3 linked regions of the Homo sapiens genome follow. The protein of the gene in region 3 purifies or fractionates together with the protein of the main gene of each other region. This does not show direct contact. Each region holds a gene or a part of one and is shown on either strand. Other genes may lie near its edges.

What was found.
Region 1: the proteins of TSC22D1 (region 3) and XPO5 purify together in Homo sapiens (co-immunoprecipitation; one large-scale study listed by IntAct). This does not show direct contact.
Region 2: the proteins of TSC22D1 (region 3) and EHD4 purify together in Homo sapiens (co-immunoprecipitation; one large-scale study listed by IntAct). This does not show direct contact.

The regions. Positions count from the first base shown.
Region 1 is NC_000006.12:43,548,386-43,552,039, reverse strand, and holds part of XPO5 (exportin-5), read left to right. Parts: intron 1-586; coding exon 587-742; intron 743-1,028; exon of another isoform or gene 1,029-1,070; coding exon of another isoform or gene 1,071-1,072; intron 1,073-2,105; coding exon 2,106-2,147; intron 2,148-2,461; coding exon 2,462-2,551; intron 2,552-3,579; coding exon 3,580-3,654. UniProt on the Homo sapiens protein: Mediates the nuclear export of proteins bearing a double-stranded RNA binding domain (dsRBD) and double-stranded RNAs (cargos). XPO5 in the nucleus binds cooperatively to the RNA and to the GTPase Ran in its active GTP-bound form.
Region 2 is NC_000015.10:41,916,928-41,920,581, forward strand, and holds part of EHD4 (EH domain-containing protein 4), read right to left. Parts: intron 2,696-3,654; coding exon 2,283-2,695; intron 1-2,282. UniProt on the Homo sapiens protein: ATP- and membrane-binding protein that probably controls membrane reorganization/tubulation upon ATP hydrolysis. Plays a role in early endosomal transport.
Region 3 is NC_000013.11:44,569,714-44,573,367, reverse strand, and holds part of TSC22D1 (TSC22 domain family protein 1), read left to right. Parts: coding exon 1-205; intron 206-3,654. UniProt on the Homo sapiens protein: Transcriptional repressor. Acts on the C-type natriuretic peptide (CNP) promoter. Acts to promote CASP3-mediated apoptosis.

The sequences.
Region 1 (3,654 bases), on a different chromosome or scaffold from region 3:
TTGAAGAAATACAAAATTTAAGAGGTTTTAGGGAATAATACACTGCTGAGAAGATGGTAAGAAGGGCACGCACAGCTGAGTACGGTGGTTCACACTTGTAATCCCAACACTTTGGGAGGCCAAGATGGGAGGAATGCTTGAACCCAGGAGTTTGAGACCAGCCTGGACAATATAGTGAGACCTCATCTCTACTAAAAATTTAAAAAATTAGCCAGGCATGGTGGTGCGTGCCAGTAGTCCCACCTACTTGGGAGGCTGAGGCCGTAGGATCACTTGAAACCAGGAGTTTGAGACCAGCCTGGTCGACATAACAACACTTCTACAACATCTCTACAAAAATTTTAGAAAGTATCCAGGCATGGTGGTGCCCGCCTGTAGTCCTAGCTACTCAGGAGGCTAAGGCAGGAGGATCCCTTGAGCTCAAGAGTTTGAGGTTACAGTGAGTGATGATTGTGCCACTGTGCACTCCAGCCTAGGTGACAGAATGAGACCCTGTCTCTTTAAAAGATGAAAATAAAATGTAGCCAAAATGGTTATTTCTAAGTGGAGGCAGCCATTGTCAACCTGTTTTATGTCTTTGTTACAGGAAATTCCTGTTAATGATGGAATAGAGCTATTGCAGATGGTTCTGAACTTTGATACCAAGGATCCCCTCATCCTGTCCTGCGTCCTTACTAATGTCTCTGCACTCTTTCCATTTGTCACCTACAGACCAGAGTTCCTGCCCCAGGTCTTCTCTAAGGTATAAAGCCCATCTCCTTTGTAAATTTTATTTTGACATTTCTAAGTTAATTTTTATTTATTTTATTTTTTTGGAGACAGGATCTTGCTACATTGCCCAGGCTGGACTCAAATTACTAGTCTCAAGGGATCCTCACACCTCACCCTTCTGAGTAGCTGAGACTACAAGCATGCACAACCATGCCTGGCCTAGGCTAATTATTTTTGTAACTATTTTTAAAATTATGTGAGGCAAACTAATAAACACAGCTATTTATTCATTTATTAAATATCTACTCAGTACTTACTGTGGATCAGGTACCATGCTAGTGCCTCACTCTTTAGGAACACTCTGGGAAGAAAGGCACAAAAACAGTTAATGTTACCTATATGGCATTGCAATGAAGACTTGTATAAAGGAGAGTATTAGAGTGTGCTGTCGGGCAGGGAGGGGATTTATGAGAGGAAGGAACACTTTCCAGGTTTCCAGTTCAGTTGACTAGGTGGGTGATAGAGCCACTCCCTGAGTCAGAATACCAGATCACAAAGGAGAACGGGACTAAAGAAGAGAAAGCATGAGTATTTTGGAATACTGTGTTTGAAGAATATGTAGAACATCTTTATGGAGACATCTCACAATAAATTGGCTATTTGAGGTTGAAGATCTAGACTCTAGAAAGTAATGAGATAAAATTAAAGCATCATCATCATAGTAGTCCCACGACTAAAAGTGAAGTCTTACTGAAGTGATTATGTATGTAGAGTTAGGAGACATGTGAGTCAAGCGAGGAACCTAGTGAATCACCATCATTGGAGGAGTGGAGAAAAAAATGAGAAGCCCCCACAGAAGGAAAAAGAGCCAGAGAAATGAAGAAAATGTTGTGTCACAAGACCAGTAGGACTTCAGAAAAGTGGGCTCATTTGTTGCAAATTATTTGAGTTGGAGAATGCCCAGTGAGTTTCTTGACTACACTCTTGTCTGAGTTTAATTCCATAATAGTGGCCAAGTAAGCAGCCATATTTCATTGGAATGAGGAGTAAATGGGAAATAATGAAATGGAATAGAAGGGATAGACCATACAACTTTTGATAAAAGAAGAGAGAGGCGTTTCCATAGCCAAGTGCTTGGGTGATGGCATGAATTGTTCTGGGATCCTATTGTAAAATGTTTTGATGGTAAAATTGTGACTCCGATGACTCTTGTAGAGGTTATCTGAGAAAATGGACAGTATGAATAAGCTCATGCCCGTAGTCCCAGCTACTCAGAAGGCTAAAGCAGGAGAATCAGTTGAGCCCAGGAATTCAAGTCTAGTCTGGGCAACATAGCAAGATCTCATCTCTAAAACAAATAAACATGAGTGACCTTTTTTCCTCCTCTCCCTTAGCTATTTTCATCTGTCACTTTTGAAACTGTTGAAGAAAGTAAGGTAAGACCATTAATTAAACCAATAGATTCTAACTTCTTGAGTACAAATGTATGAATACCTGATACTCAGTTTATATTTTTATATAAATGGGAGGGGGTAGTAAGGGTGGTAGATTATCATATATGTTGTTTTGCCACTATAGGGCATACAAGAAACATGGATTCTTGGTGGCTATAAATGTTACTCCATTATACTCTTAGGGTTGTGAAAAATCATTGTGAATTTGCCCCTGACTGAGATATTCACATGAGTCTATGCAGCACCTGTATATTATATTAAAAGCAGCTCCGAGTTTGTTGAATGTCTCTTTTCAGGCCCCCAGAACCCGGGCAGTGAGGAATGTGAGGAGGCATGCTTGTTCCTCCATCATCAAGATGTGTCGTGACTACCCCCAGCTTGTGCTGGTAAGCTGCTGGACCCTGGCTGAAGTAGCCAAGTTTGGTTACATTTGTGTGTAAATCCAGCTTTCAGTGTACCTCACATAAAGAAAAAACTAGAAACTATAGCTTTGCATCATATAAGCATCCTTGGCCGGGCATGGTGGCTCACACCTGTAATCCCAACACTTTGGGAGACTGAGGTGGGTAGATCACCTGAGGCCAGGGGTTCGGGACCAGCCTGGACAACATGGTGAAGTCCGGTCTCTACTAAAAGTACAAAAAAATTAGCTGGGCATGGTGGTGCATGCCTGTAATCCCAGCTAGTCAGGAGGCTGAGGCAGGAGAATCACTTGAACTCAGGAGGCGGAGGTTGCAGTGAGCCAAGATCACGCCATTGCTCCAGCCTGGGCAACGAGCGAAACTCCATCTCAAAAATAAATAAATAAACATTCTTGAATTGGTGTTTTCTTAGTATACTTAGTAGTATAGTTAGAAATGTGATGGCAAATGTAATCTCTCTTCAAAATACAAATAGTTCTCTGCCATATAGATTACTAAGTTTACCCCTATAATTCTACAACTCTTTACTATGTGATGATCTTAATTACTACTGCCAAATGATGTGCCTGATCTTGAGAAAAGCAGATGCAAATCACAACCCTTTTTGGGGCATGGGGTTATAAGAAATTTAACATTACTCCAGATTACAAATTATCCAGAAATTTCTTCTCTGAATGCACAGCAGTTATCTCCATATATATATAGATATACATATATATCTATATATATATATAAAACAAGCTGATCTTTTCACAGTTGTAGTATGGGAAAGTGCAGTTATCCAAATACTCAAGACAAGAGCTATCTTCCGCCTAAATTGCCTTGCTTATTTAGGCAAAATAAAGACATATAACAGAATTACCAAATAATAACCTTATAGGCCTGACTTTCCTGGGACTGCTTTGGTTTTCTTCTTTCTTCCTTGAGTAAGCCACCTCTCCTTGAAAATCAGACCTTTACCACCTCTGGCTTTTTTTCTTTTTGATCTGTAGCCCAATTTTGACATGCTTTATAACCATGTGAAGCAACTCCTCTCCAATGAGCTACTCCTGACACAAATGGAGAAG
Region 2 (3,654 bases), on a different chromosome or scaffold from region 3:
CCTGCATCCACACAAGGGTTTTCATTATTCACAGTGTCAGAATACAGAGCAGCGTTCTGTGCCTCCAAACCCAGGCCGCGCTGGCCCGTTCAGAGGGCCCGAGGCTCAAGGATGGCAGGGAAGCTCTACGGGTTAAGGCGCTTGGCATTTCCAGCGAGCTTTCTGCTCCTTATTTATTTATTTATTTATTTATTTATTTATTTATTTATTTGAGACAGAGTCTCACTCTGTCGCCTAGGCTGGAGTGCAGTGGCACGATCTTGGCTCACTGCAACCTCCACCTCCTGGGTTCAAGCGATTCTCCTGCCTCAGCCTCCTGAGTAGCTGGGATTACAGGTGCCTGCCACCATGCCTGGCTAATTTTTGTATTTTTAGTAGAGACGGGGTTTCAATATGTTGGCCAGACTGGCCTTGAACTCCTGACTTTGTGATCCACCCGCCTCCGACTCCCAAAGTGCTGGGATTACAGGCGTAAGCCACCGTGCCCGGCCTCCTTATTTATTTATATGACTGAATACAGCAGCATCTCCAGTCACTGGGTCTTCATTTACCAATAACTGGTAAATGAAGAATGTCCATGAGCATTTAAAAATAGTTTTAAAAAATCTCAAAATCTGCAAAGGCTATGACATGAGTCACCAACTTTGGTTATAAACTAATGTGGGGTGTCACACACCTTGAAGGTTGTTCAGTTGTACCTGCTGGAGAAAGGAAACACCACAAACCAAGGGATCACCGAGTGGAAAAACAGCCTTCCTGCTACCAAGCATTAGGCCCAGGACAAGGGCGAGGGCAAAATCATTTCAGGAGAGCTGCACGTAAGTGGATTTACAAACTAGTTAGCACATCTGCCTTGCAGAACTGGAGCAAAAATGGCTTGTAGCTCTGGAAAGGAAGCCACTTGGACCAGGAAGAACAGATAAAGAAGGATGACTCACACAAGCACCACACCACTGCAGGTTAGCTGAGCCATATGGGAGGAATGCATGCACACGCACTGGGACACACGTGACAGAGAGGGACACAGGACATCGAGGTCCTGTGTGAGGGGCAGCAGCAGCCAGGACGGTGTTTGTTTTCACCCAGGCAAGAGGCTGCCCAGTGAGCACACTGGCACGAGGACAGGCTGCTAATGAGCAGCAAGAAGGAGGAAGAATTGTCCCCACCTTGGCTGTCCCCATCAGGGAAGCCCTCCCTGCCTCCTGGCCAGGCACGTAGTCACCCTTCCCAGAGCACTCATGGCAGCATCCATACCATGACTGGCACATAGCCAATCACCCAGGGAGCTTTACACACACACACACACACACACACACGCGCATGTTTACACACATGCATATTCACACAAGGCCATGTGTGCACGCACACCCCTATATCCGAGGCTCTGGGGCAGGGCCTGGGAATGTATGTTGCTTCTGATGATCAGCCAGGTTTGAACTTCACTAGGACTAGATAAAACTCTAAAGGCACTTCCAGCATTAGAGGACAATGATTTTATGAAACATGCACATATTTTTTAAAGAGCCATTTTTTTCTCTGTATTTTCTCTTGGAGGAGGGATATGCTTTTCTCTCTTTGGAGACATGAATTGACTCTGTCACTTGAGGGATGTCAGCAGGTCACCTCTCACTGCCCCATTGGGCACACACTCCTGGGGCTGCTGAAAGGCTCAGCTATGAGGCAGGCGAGCCAGGAGCCCAGGCATGCAGGCTAACAGCCCGCAGCCCAGAATGAGGATGCGGGGGTGACCCAAAACCAGCACACTCCAAGAGTAAGACTGAGCCATACTTCTTCCCAGGGCTCCCCTGGATCCAGGTGGTAACACTGGCCTTTGGTGCACGGGGACTAGCAGTGGCCTCTCAGCATCCTGTTGGTCTCACCAATGCCACCTCTTTCAGGTTTGGTTGGTTATATTCCTATCGTCCTGACATCCTAACAGCTACCATGTAGTGGGTGCACTGATTGATCCCCCTCCCTGTGCACCAGGCACTATGCCAAGTGCTCTGTCACACTGACCAACTGTCACCCCAAGTTCTTGTGAAGTGCTCTTATTAGCTCCATGGTACAGATTGGAGAACAGGGTTAGTCATCTGCCCAGGAGTGCAGAGCCAGGAGCTAGGGTGTCAGCAGGGCCACCTGACCTCGAGGCTGTATTCTTAACCTAGCGCATGTTCATTCCTTAAGCCTTCTGGAACGAAGCCTCCTCCCACCCATCTTGCCTCTGGAGAGGAGACAGCAGAGTCCCAGCCCCTGGCCTCTGTGCAAGGCATCTCCTGGCTTACCTTGGCCAGCCTCGCTCGCTTGATGAGGTCGTTGAGCTTGCGCACCGCTGCCTTCTGGGGGAGGCTCTGGATGTCTCTAAAGAGGTCCTGGGCCTCAGCCTCGAAGAGCCGGCGGTTGTCCGTGTTCTGCAGGGGCTGCGCCCAGAAGGAGCCAATGTAGACGCGCAGTACCTCGGGCGTGTTGATGACCTTGCCTAGGGACCACATGAGGGCCCCGTAGACCCGCATCAGCTGCTGCGTGTCCACTTGGTCGGCCTTGTTCAGCACGACACGGATCTTGTCGTCCTGGCCCCGGAAGGCCTTGATGGCCTCTGAGAATTCATCTGAGATGTCCAGCTTGTGAGCGTCAAAGAGCAGGATGATCCTGTCCACCCTCTCGGCAAACCACTGCAGGACCTGGCAGAAGTCATAGCCTGGGTGGAGAGAAGGACACGTCAGTGTAGCCACTGCTGCAGGAGACACGTTTAATGGGCGGCTCAGGAACAGTCTCGCTCTCCAGCAGCTGCCAGGGAGAGAGCCCTGTCTCCAACCTGGAGGCAGTGGAGGCCTGGTGACATGAAAATCACGGGCTGGATGAATCCGGGTGGGAAGGACCTGGGGAGCCCTTCCACAGGAGGAGGGAGGAAAGAGAATGGGGCTCATGGTCACTTTGGGAATTGCTGACTTTCATATCTGCGATTTCATTTAGTCCTCATGAGTGTTTTATTTCACCTAATACAGACCTTTTGCTTGATGGCAGAATTGATCAATGGTTTTATAAAAACACAGGCCATGGGTCAAAAGATCTTACTTCTGAAAAGTCTCACTTTTCTGAAAGCCCCAAATACAGAAGAAAGAGAACCAGAGGCCACCTGGCATCCCATGGGGGTATCCAGTAAGCATAACAGAAGAGGCATCGCCTTCAATTAACCCAAGTTTGTAGAGTGCTGAGGAGGTCAAAGGTTGGCCCAGCCAGTGTTGTGATCAATATTTATCTTTGGACTATTTATAACTCAGGTATATTGTGAATATTTTTTTAACATTACGTATCACAGCCATTGTGTAAAATGGTCTCTTGCCAATTTCTTTTTTTAAAATGGCCTGGCCCACAGCAAATTCTGTCCAGCCTATTCTGACCACCTCCACAAATCATGCAGCTGCATAAACACTCTTCAGCCCAAGGTCAAGGCTCTCAGGCCTTTCCCCAGGGAGGCAGATTCCCACGAAAAGCAAACAAGAGGAGGCCAAGCCCACAAAGTTGACTTTTAATCTCAGTCTGACTAGTTGCAGAAGCAGAGTCTCAATCCAGCCCAGCTAGTGCTGAGATGTCACCTGCCTGACCCCCATGCTAGGGGTCGTCTCCCCTCTTCTTTTAGATTTTGAAAACTTTCAA
Region 3 (3,654 bases):
CTCAGGCAATTGGAAGCCAAATTGAAGATGCCAGGCGTGCAGCGGAGCCCTCCTTAGTTGGCTTACCTCAGACTATCAGTGGTGACAGTGGGGGAATGTCAGCAGTTTCAGATGGGAGTAGCAGCAGCCTAGCAGCCTCTGCTTCTCTTTTCCCGTTGAAGGTGCTACCGCTGACGACACCCCTGGTGGATGGCGAGGATGAGAGGTAAGATCATGTCATATTTCTGGAGACATTCAACAGATTTGAAGTTAATCTATTTAGTAGCTATATGTATGCACAAAATGACTCTAAAACATTGTATATTGTGTTTTGTATGTGAAAAATGCATTTTTATGGGAAGTTTTATAGAGCAAGAGTTATGGAATGGTTTCAGAGGGAGTAGGAAATAATAGTAATATGTAAACAATATTTTCAGAATAGTTGTTGAGCATGTGTTCACATTAAAAACAGGTTTGGGGGCGCCAAGTGGTTTTATTATCTCTAAAATGCTTTTTAGAAATATTATGGAAAGCTTAATTTTTGCTAACCCACATAATAGTTAATCTATTTTGAGCTGCTAAAATAATCTCTTGGGGGGTTGTGGTTCCCACGTTTGTTCTCCTTTACTAGACATCCCTTTTTCATTTCTACTGTGTTTGATCTTAGTCTGTGAAAGATATTGTTGCCTACTTTTCCTAGTCAGATATGGTAGGAAAGATGACTTAATCTGGGTTATATAGGTTGCCCTCATACTCCAACTGACCAACTTTTGCGTACTTATTTAATGGTCATTTTATCTGAACAGTAAAGGAATGGGAATCTTATTTTGTGGGAAAGGAGGACATAAACTATCAAAATAACCAGACTTATCTTGATAGTATGCTGAACATTTTTTCTTTTGCATGGTAGATCAAGGTGGTAGCCATTTTAAAGAACAGAGAAAGTAAGTCTTGGAGGATTGAATTTATAGAGGCGTGAAAATAAGACCTTGGTCTCTGGCTAATCTACTCCACCTGTTCCTTTCTTTCCTTACCAAAAAGATACAGAAAGCCTAAAGTACATTATTAAACCAAGCGTTTTTTCACGTAGATTGGAAATAATATGCCAGTAACGCTTATTGAATCAAATTGTGTCTTTGAAGCTGACTGGCTAAAAAAGTTGTGAAATCTTTCATGTTGATTTTTAAAGTAATGTTCTTTTCACAAATTTTCCAGTCTGTTACTAACCTTGATTAAAATGCTATTATAGGAGTTATGAAAAGACATCATTTTCACGGTGGAATTTGGAGTAAGCGTGCAAGATATTTAATTATTTTAGTATTAGTTGGAGGGTTTTGTGATTGAACTTTCATCAAGCGAATTTAAGCATTTATATTCTATATGTATGTTTGTGGGTTTTGCTTTGGAAAAATTGAGCATATTGCAAAATAGTTGTAATTTTAGAAAAAGAAAACAGGTCAAATGTTTCAGTGAGGTTTGTGTTATTTAGTTGTTTAAAAGGTAAGATAAAGACATGGTTAAATTGATAAAATCTTATCTTTCAAGATTTTTATTATTTTTCTAATAGTCAGGTAATTAAAACCTTGTTACCTAACCAAATGTATTCTGTATTATTTGTACAAAACTGTACTCTAAAAGATAAACTTTTAGGAGGTAGTTTCCTTAATTGTTCCATTATTATTGTTAAACCTTTAATTTTATCATGCTAATACTCAACTAATTTTAAAAGAATTACCACAAATATTAATGTTTTTTAAGTCAAAAGGTTATGATTTGAGTGAAGCCTCTATAAAAACAGCTATATTATGTGGATGCTAAGTTTAGAGAAACAAAAGACGGGTAAAATACACAAACAAAAACACTCATTTTGAATTCAAACTTGCCATGATTTTGTAATTGCCATTTGTGGTCTCCTGGCTTGACTTTCACCTCTTTTTCCTCCTATTGGTAGGACATGATAGGATTTTCCACAGCTTGCCCTTCCAGGCAATTAAAGTCAGATGATGCTACTTTCAACTAGAGTTTTAACTATAGGAATAGGGTCCCAGTTTAAGATATTAATATAAAATTAATTTTTCCAGATAATAATTGAGAAAAGGAATAATAAGGTGGAAATTATGGAATTCTAGAAAGGGACAAAAAGACATACTGAGAAATAAGGAAATATAGCTCTAATACAAGTTGTCTTCAGACACTGTACACATTCAATTATAATTATGTTTAGCAGTCTCTCCCACAAGACCAGGAGTTCCTCAAGAGCAGGGACTGTTTTGAATTTACTACCTATTTGGGCCTTGGTTAGTTAACATCAAAGTTTCGTGATTAAAAACCAGAAAATTTTTGTTTTAGCGGTATCTTAAATTCTGTGAAATCGGAATGTAGCCCTAAAACACCTTGTAAGATCAGAAAAGATATATATTATATTCTTTATTGTGTTTTACTGAAGATTATTTATCACTACAGTTTGGAAAAAAGTTAATTTTCATTTAAATTTGCCCTTGGAAGATAATTTAAGAATAACTACAAGAGAAAACAGTGATATGATTAAAAAACAAACTTTTAAAACCTTTCTTCCCATGGTAGCTTCTGTTGTCACTTGCATCTTCTGGGCTTGGTCACCATTAGTCTCAGGAGAGAGGGAATACATATATAATTTCAATATTATGAATCAGGAAATGTGTTAACAATATAATTTGGGCAGTAGGACAGATGAGGATGGTTATCTTTTAATCATCTTTTGAAATAATACTCTTAACACTTTAGATTATAAAATGTTTAGACATGTGGAAAGTGCCTTCAGTTGATCACTGGGAGAGACTATAAACATGGATCAGGATGCTAAGATTATGTATCTTGTTTTAAAAAAAATCATTCTTATTTAAAAGGTCTTAATGTCAGGCCGTGTGCGGTGGCTCACACCTGTAATCCCAGCACTTTGGGAGGCTGAGGTGGGCAGATTGCTTGAGCCCAGAAATTTGAGACCAGCCTGGGCAACATGGCAAAACCCTGTCTCTACAAAAAAATACAAAAATTAGCCAGGCATGGTGGCGCATGCCTGTAGTTCCAGCTACCTGGAAGGCTGAGGTGGTAGGATCCCCTGAGCCCTGGAGGTCAAGGCTGCAGTGAGCTGGGATCATGCCACTGCACTCCAGCCTGGGTGGCAGACCAGGACCCTGTCTCTAAAAAAAAAAAAAAAAAAAGTCTTAATGTCTTAGACTGTAACATGAACTGTGAATTCACCTTTACAAGAATGGGAAAATACAGGTATTGCATCTTTTATGTTTTGTGATTGTTATTAGCACAGCCTCTTAACGTGAAATGGGTCAAACTTCTATTCATCCTTCAAGACTCAGCTCAGATGTTCTCTTTAAAGCATTCTTTTCACTCAGGGGACATTGTTTCCTTAGCACTTTTTAATATTCCTCTATTTAAGCACTGTACACATTCAATTATAATTATGTTTACCAATCTTTCCCACAAGACTAGATGTTCCTCAAGGGCAGGGATGAATTATTTTTTTGAATTAATTAGCAGGCATTTCTCCTGATTTTTTTTTTGTCATGATTTAAAGTTTATATTGTCCCTCATCTTAAGCACAATTGTGAGAGATGCAGGATCATATAATTTATGCAACAAATGGAAAAGAACTGAATAAAAAGACTTGCTTTTTTGTAT